Linked DNA regions of Homo sapiens: regions 1 and 2 are each linked to region 3. The links come from fine-mapping of genetic effects on gene expression. A gene starts in region 3. Each other region holds a variant in brackets. All regions are shown on one strand. Distances are from middle to middle.

Evidence for each region. PIP is the estimated chance that this variant, and not a neighbour inherited with it, causes the effect.
Region 1: its variant is fine-mapped to the expression of VAMP2 in whole blood (TOPMed, PIP above 0.99).
Region 2: its variant is fine-mapped to the expression of VAMP2 in whole blood (INTERVAL, PIP above 0.99).

Annotation. Positions count from the first base shown.
Region 1 is chr17:8,246,695-8,249,194 of GRCh38, forward strand. It overlaps CTC1 (CST telomere replication complex component 1), which reads right to left and starts at 1,362. Exons shown (of 23, transcript NM_025099.6): 1 at 1,310-1,362. The coding sequence starts at 1,342. It also overlaps a transcript of PFAS not described here. RefSeq lists enhancers at 1,159-1,298, 1,779-1,898, 2,023-2,500 and a silencer at 1,389-1,438. The variant A/C (reference allele first, on the strand shown) is at 1,151.
Region 2 is chr17:8,117,236-8,120,039 of GRCh38, forward strand. ALOXE3 (arachidonate epidermal lipoxygenase 3) reads right to left here and starts at 1,279. Exons shown (of 16, transcript NM_021628.3): 1 at 1,251-1,279; 2 at 609-1,068. The coding sequence starts at 755. TRK-TTT3-5 (tRNA-Lys (anticodon TTT) 3-5) reads left to right here and starts at 1,920; the gene lies at 1,920-1,992. TRQ-CTG1-5 (tRNA-Gln (anticodon CTG) 1-5) reads left to right here and starts at 2,517; the gene lies at 2,517-2,588. RefSeq lists enhancers at 445-1,644, 1,366-1,445, 1,526-1,595, 1,746-1,845 and silencers at 2,366-2,415, 2,546-2,635. The variant C/T (reference allele first, on the strand shown) is at 1,137.
Region 3 is chr17:8,161,418-8,163,917 of GRCh38, forward strand. It overlaps VAMP2 (vesicle associated membrane protein 2), which reads right to left and starts at 1,531. Exons shown (of 5, transcript NM_014232.3): 1 at 1,461-1,531; 2 at 832-952; 3 at 191-349; 4 at 56-107. The coding sequence starts at 1,462. RefSeq lists an enhancer at 699-748 and silencers at 859-968, 1,259-1,448, 1,609-1,708, 1,839-1,898.

The sequences.
Region 1 (2,500 bases), 85 kb after region 3:
GCTAACATGGTGAAACACCGTCTGTACTTAAAAAAAAGAAAAAAAATACAAAAATGAGCTGGGCATGGCGGCGCGTGCCTGTATGCCTGTAATTCCAGCTACTCGGGAGGCTGAGGCAGAAGAATCGCTTGAACCTGGGAGGCAGAGGTTGCAGTGAGCCGAGATCGCGTCACTGCACTCCAGCCTGGTGACAAAGCTAGACTCCGTCTCAAAACACACACACACACACACGCACACAAACCAATCCTTTAGATTGTATTTTCTTAACATCTTATTTATTTATTTATTTATTTATTTATTTATTTATTTATTTATTTGAGATGGAGTCTGGCTCTGTCGTCCAGGCTAGAGTGCAGTGGCGCGATCTCGGCTCACTGCAACCTCCACTTCCGTGGTTCCCTGCTCAGCTTCCTGAGCAGCTGGGATTACCGGCGTGTGCCACCACACCCAATTACCCTCATGTTAAAGTCGCTGCTTAGCAAGAGGTACAAAACTGTCAGCTCTGACCCCTCCACCACCACCCAACTGAACTTTTGAGTTTTTCAGACACCTGCTCTATCCTCCTGCCTTTGAATATGTGTTTGCTTCCGTCCTGAAACCCCTTCCGGCGCTTTTTTTTTTTTTTTTTTTTTTTTGACAGAGTCTCGCTCTGTTGCCCAGGCTGGAGTGCTGTGGCACAATCTCAGCTCACTGCAGCCTCCGTCTACCCGGTTCAAGCGATTCTCCTGCCTCAACCTTCTGAGTAGCTGGAATTACAGGTGCGCGCCACCACGCCCGGCTAATTTTTGTATTTTTAGTAGAGATGAGGTTTCACCATGTTGGTCAGGCTGGTCTCGAACTCCTGACCTCAAGTAATCCGCCCGCCTCCGCCTCCCACAGTGCTGGATTACAAGCGTGAGCCACCACACCCAGCCCCTTTCGGCGCTTTTTGCCTTCTACACGCACTTCGGGTCTCAGACGCTTTTACTTATTATGGTTGCCCTTTTCCCCTACAGCTCCGTCAAGGGTCTTCTCCAGGAACCCACAGCCCCATAGTTCCCCCATTAACCTGCTCCTGGTTTCCCACCAGGATTAAACCCTAGAGAGTGAACGGAGACCAGTTTAAGGCTCACAGCGGGCGCCGCGTGAATGAGGGAATAAACATTCGCAG[A/C]ACCAGTAAGAGGTAGGAGCGGACCGACTCACAACCCCCTCACCCATGGGCCGGACGCGGCCAGCGAGCCCAGAGAGACAAGGCAGAGGAAATAGGAAGAGAAAGAGTATCTGTGACAAACAAGAAAAAAGGAACAAGAGACGTAATAGCAGCACTCACGGAGGAAGGGACCTGGGCCCGGCCAGCCGCCATGATGCGCCGGAGCTCCGCCCCCGGGAGGGGCAGGTGCTCGCTTGGGGGTGGGGATGGGGGTGGGGGGGCGCTCGGTGACGTCACCGGTGAGCGGGTTTCCTCGCCACCTCCAGCTCCTTCTCGCTGCTCACCCCCTCGCTTCCTAGAGACTCCGCGAGGCGCCTCGGTGCACCATCCCAACTCCCGACACCCCTGTCTCTTTTCTCTGATTTTTTTTTTTTTAAGACGAAGCCTGGTTCTGTCGCCCAGGCTGGAGTGCAGTGGCGCGATCTCGGCTCACTGCAACCCCCGCCTCCCAGGTTCAAGGGATTTTCCGGCCTCAGCCTCCTGAGTAGCTAGGATTACAGGCACCTGCCACCACCACGCCCGGCTAATTTTTTTTTTTTTTTTTTTTTTTGTATTTTTAGTAGAGACGGGGTTTCACCATGTGGCCAGGCTGGTCTCAAACTCCTGACCTCAGGTGATCCACCCGCCTCAGCCTCCCAAAGTGCTGGGATTACAGGCGTGAAACACAGCCCCTGGCCCTCTCTGATTTTTTTGAGACGAGGTCTCGCTCTATCGCCCAGGCTGGAGTGCAGCGGCGCCATCTCGGTTCACTGCAGCCTCGACCTCCCGGGCTCAAGCGATCCTCCCACCTCAGCCCACCAAGTAGCTGGGATCGCAGGCTTGCACCGCCACACCCGGCTAATTTTTGTATTTTTCTGTAGCGACATGGTTTCGCCATGTTGCCCAGACTGGTCTCGAACTCCTGGGCTCAAGCGATCTGCCCGCCTCGGGCTCCCAAAGTGCTCGGATTACAGGCGGGAGCCACCGCGCCCAGCCTCCGTCTCCCTCCTAAGTGACATCCTGTCCGGCATCCCGCAGGCCTTCAGATGGATGGGGTAGCAGAGCTCAGGAACTCAAACACAGCCCGCCTGGTGGATGACTTCTAAGCATCTTTCAGTCTCCCTGATCTTGCCAAGCAGAGAAGGGCTTCCTCGTAATGCCACCAAAGCACAACTTTCACATGCTTGCTTTATGGCCTTAACTAACTGATGTCATTACTTAACTGTCCCCGCGGGGACGGGGAACTGAATGTATTTTCACAAACGTCAGTTCAAGACAGATTTGTGGGAGAAACCACCTGGGGATAAACCTCTCCCCACCAAGAACCTAGAA
Region 2 (2,804 bases), 44 kb before region 3:
CGATGAAACCGCTTCTCTACTAAAAATACAAAAAATTAGTCGGGCGTCGTGGCAGGCGCCTGTAATCCCAGCTACTTGGGAGGCTGAGGCAGGAGAATCGCTTAAACCCGGGAGGTGGAGGTTGCAGTGACCTGAGATCACACCACTGCCCTCCAGCCTGGGCAACAAGAGCAAAACTCCATCTCAAAAAGAAAAGAAAAAGGTGCCCGAGCACAGTGGGCACTGCATTTCACTAGCTTCCTAGGCCGGCTGGGAACTCTTGTGGAGGCCACCTGGGGCTGGCAGAGGCAGGCAGATCCCCTCGATAAGAGGAAACCCAGGCTCAGAGAGGGGAAGCGACTTGCCCAAAGCCCACGGTCAATTATGGGAGGAGTTTAGGAGCCAGGGGAAGTCCCTCTACTCCCTGTCCAACGCTCCTTCCTCTCCACAGTCCTGCCTGGATGGAGTTCATCATCTCCAGGAAAGACAGGGACCTCAATAGGGAAGGTGAGGAGGTCAGGGCCGGTATCCTGAGTTCAGCAGGATCTCAAGAGTCCAGGAGGAATACTCCTCCCGCCTGCGGCCCCTGCCCCTCTGAGGTCGCGCTTCCCTGTCTCCTTTGTACTCACCGATCCAGGGGCGAAGTCCCTGCCCATTCGATCTAGCCGCTGCTTGGGGCTTTCACCACACGTGCCCACCAGTGTGACAGAGATGTTGTCCAGTGTGCCGGCCCTCAGGTAGGGACCAGTGGTCACACACAGGCGGTACACTGCCATGATGGGAAGGAGGAAGGGATGCCCCGGCAACGCTGGCCGCAGCAGCAGCCGGCCTGGAGGAGAAGAGCGGCACGCCGGACAGGGCTGGGTTTCTGGGCGGAGGGCTAGGGGCTGCGGGGCTGGGTAGGGCTGAGGATGGGCCCAGCTCTCTCTGGGATGTTCCTGGGCTTTCTCTCTCCGAAGCTCCCTGCTGGCGGCTCGGGCTTCCTCTCTCCGCCCACAGTCTTGCACTCTAATACTTGTTTGCTTGCCTCTGACACAGCCGGTCCCTCTGGCTGGCTCACCCAGATGGATATCAGGAGCCTGGGTTCCACTGCGGAGGGAGGGATCAGATGCTGAGATGGAGAAAAGGAGGTAACGCCTGTATAATTGGGACACTGC[C/T]CTCCGCCTGGTCAGCGGCCCGGACTGATGCCCTGGAGTGCTTGTCCGCCCACTCCCCAATGTCCCCCAAGATCTGTTCCTCCCCATTCCCAGGCAGAGATGAGCACAGGGCACCTGCATTCCTACGTGTGAATCATCCGTGTGAATCACTAAACAGTGGAGAGTTGCACTTGGTCATAAATCACACGTGACTGCAGCCACACGCAGGTGAGTCGCACACGCATTCCAGCACATGTCAAATGGTCAGGAACAGCTCCCTGTCACCCCATACACCGATCCCCCCACGCATGGCCCTCTTTGTCCCCAGCCTTTGGCACGCCCGACCTCATTCTCTGCTCTGGAGTAGGGCAGGTCAGGAAAGCGAAATACAGCGCCGGCAAACAGGGTCTGAATGCCCCGCGTGGCATTCTTTCCGCTCCAGGACCGCCCTGGGCCTGCAGGATCCTGGGCGGGAGCCCAGGTGTCCGGGATCTGGGCCACTAGGGACTGGGGAGGAACCTCTCAGAGAAGCCCATAGCCCGCAGCGGCCCCGCGCGGCCGGTTCCGGCGCCGCACTGTTCCAGCCTCTACTATGGTACAGTCCCTGCGTCGCAGCCTCGGCGGGGGCTCTAAGAACGGGAGGCAGAAAAAGCTCAATCAGCAGCAGGCGAGCTTCACCCGCTGCTTCCAAATCTGTGCCAAAATATTCTATGCTGCACAGATAAAATCCTCTGTCGGTTCTACAAGCCTGGCTTTTCCTATAGAGAACCCTCTTATAAGCAAAAAGTAAAGCTCTCGTGAAGAGCCCGGATAGCTCAGTCGGTAGAGCATCAGACTTTTAATCTGAGGGTCCAGGGTTCAAGTCCCTGTTCGGGCGGCATGTCTTTGCTTTTGGGTACCGCACTTCGCATAAAATGGTAACAAAAATAGTTACTAGTTTTTAAAGCTAGGTGATACAGAAACTTGATTTCCACAAAATACAGCAAACGACGGTGGAGGGTAATAAACATACTTTAAAACAGTACAAACGCGAGCCGTATTATCGAATTTACATTTTCTGGTAGCCACATTACAAAGAATAAAAAGCAAGCGAAATTAATTTCACGGATCTATTTTACTTACCCTAATATACCAAAATCTTATTTTAACATATAATCAACATTCTAAAAATATTAATGAAATTTTAAGTCTTTTTGTTTGTACAAAGCCTTCCTTCAAAAGAAGATGTGTATTTAGAAGCTGGCAATACATCTGAATTCATATATTTCAAGTGCTCGATAACGGTGTCTACCATATCCAACAGCAGACTTTGTTTTGTTTTCGTTTTAAGTGACGGGTGTGGAAGACACGCAAAATAGAATGTCCAGTAATGTACACAATCTTGAAAGACACCACGAGGGAGGTTCCATGGTGTAATGGTTAGCACTCTGGACTCTGAATCCAGCGATCCGAGTTCAAATCTCGGTGGAACCTTGAAGCTTTTCTTTTAATATCAGCATGTTGAATATTGTTAATTGATTTTCACAGAGGGGATACTCCTATGACCCAAGATAATACGACAAAAAAAAAAAGTAAACTAGGACACTACCAATTATTTGTGCTTTTCCTACCGGATAATTGAGTCCTATAACACAGTGTTAAGAGAACGTACAATAAATTATTTAAATATGTTGGAAGTTGAGCTAACAT
Region 3 (2,500 bases):
TCCACTGGGGAAACCTCTCCAGGGAAAGGGCCCCGGCCATTCTCACCCTACTCACCTATGATGATGATGAGGATGATGGCGCAAATCACTCCCAAGATGATCATCATCTGGGGGTGAGAGGCGAGGATCAGTAAGACAAACTATGATACCCCATTCACCCACCTGTCCTCCTTCCTGTCCCCACCCTTACCTTGAGGTTTTTCCACCAGTATTTGCGCTTGAGCTTGGCTGCGCTTGTTTCAAACTGGGAGGCCCCCGCCTGGAGTGCATCTGCACGGTCGTCCAGCTCCGACAGCTTCTGGTCTCGCTCCAGGACCTTGTCCACGTTCACCCTCATGATGTCCACCACCTGGGAGAAGGGCCCACGAGGCAGGGGGGTGTGCCAAGGCCCACCTCAGTGAGGGCAATCCTCAAACATGTGCCCACCGTGCCACACATGGAACATGCACCCTGATACTGCCAGGTTAACATGCCAAGGACACACAGAACATGCCTAGCACACCTGGGGACATGCAAGGAGCACACATCAGGGGCATGCTGGTGACATCTCAGATGTCATAGCAACACCCTCCCTCTATGGAACCTCAGGCGCTCTGTCCATCACCAGAGCACACCTGCCCAGGCTGGCACACCCCAGGCTAGCAAAGCTGATTAACACCCCCAGCGCCCTTCCAAGTGCGTGCTGACAGGGAGACAGGGATGGGGCATGGTATCTTTGTCCGCAAACCCACAGGCGTGAACTGTCATCACTCCCAAACCAACATGGGCCCCTACACCTATACGCCAACCCCCAGGGTCCCTCCTACTGCTTTTGACTCCCCCCACACTCACCTCATCCACCTGGGCCTGGGTCTGCTGCAGTCTCCTGTTACTGGTGAGGTTTGGAGGGGGTGCAGGGGGACCACCCTCCCCAGCCGGGGCAGCAGGGGGGGCCGTGGCAGCGGTAGCAGACCTGAGGAGCAGGGACGGATTAAGACCCAGGGCCTGCAGCCTCCCGGCCCCGCAGCCAGGGCTCCGCCCATCCACCTGTCCATCCTCGTCCCTCCAGTCCTCCTTTTCGGGAGGAAGGCCACCCGATGTAAGCCCTGGTCTCGGTCCAGCCCTGCCGCCGATGAGCTGCGTGACCTTGAGCGAGGCCCCCCCGGCCTCAGTTTCCCCGCCTGTCAACTGAGGGCGACCTCACAGATGCGATCCGGGTCGACCCGAAAAGACAGGCGGCCGCGGTGACAGGGGCGGGGAGGGGCAGGAGGACACTGGGTCCGCTCCTTCCCGCGGCCATCGCCCGAGCCGGCCAGCCCGGGACGCGGGGCTCCTCGGCCGCCCGCGCGCAGTCACCGGCTTGGGCCTGGCCCCGGGGCGCGGGGAACGCAGGAGAGACCCCGGGCACTCCCGACGGCCGGTTGCCAAGGGCGGCGGCCGGCGCAGGGAAGCGCGGTGAGGGTGGCGGGCGGCCGACTCACATGGCGGGGGCAGCGGGTGGAGGACTTGGCAGCGGCAGTGATGGCGGCGGCGGCTCGCGCTGGCTCCGACTGGCGCTGGCTGCCCGGGACGGAAAGATGGCGGCCGCGCGTCACCCGCATCCGGGCACTGCGGGCGGGGGCGGGGCGCCGCGGGAGACGCGTCGCGAGCGGGGCCGCGGGGGCGGGGCGCTGCGGGGCGCTGCGGGGCGGGGGTCGTGCCGGGCAGGACCACGGGCCCCGCGCCACCATGCCCCGGCAGCTCCCTCGGCACTCGCGGGACCCCAAGGCGGGCTGCTGCGGCTTCCCCAAACCCACCGCCACCCCACCCTGTCTGACCACAGCCCCCCCAAACCGCCTGCCGCCTGCCCCTTAGAGCACAACGCAGCCTGGCCCTACACCTAACCCCCAGACCACTCCCTCAATCGTGAACCCAGTAAACCAGCCTGCACCCCACACAGCCCAAGGTCTTGCCCCGCGCCCAGGTCCCAGCACCTAGCGACCCGCCTTCAGCACTTGGAATGGGCTGGAGTTGGGAAATCAGAGAGGGCCAGTGCAGGTGCTGGGGCAGTATCGAGAGCGGGGACCTTACTGCTAGGGTGGAGAGGAGTGGGGGAGATTGGTCCCAACCCATCACCGCTGGTGGATGTCTCAGAGGAAGCCTGGGGTCCCTGGCCACTGGGTAGGAGGGTAGGAAGAAAAGATGAGGCAGGCTCTTCCCGCCCAAACAAGTCCAGGGGGCGGAGGACGGGGGAGTGTCTACAGGGTGTGGGGAGGGGGCTGCCCCGCCTCACGATTAAGGTTCAGACTAGGGGTACTTAACCGCTGGAGCAGGCCCGACTGAGGTGGGGTGAGCTGAGGACCCCGAGGAGGAGGGCACAAGGCTGCCGGGGGTGATGGGGGCAGGGGCTGCTTCACGTGGTGGCTGCTGACTGGCCAAGACCTAGCTTTGCCCCAGGCTTAGGTCAGCGACCCGACTGCAGGAAAGGGCTCAGGCTTTGGTCCCAGGCACAGGGCCTGGGCCAAAAAAAAAAAAAAAGCCT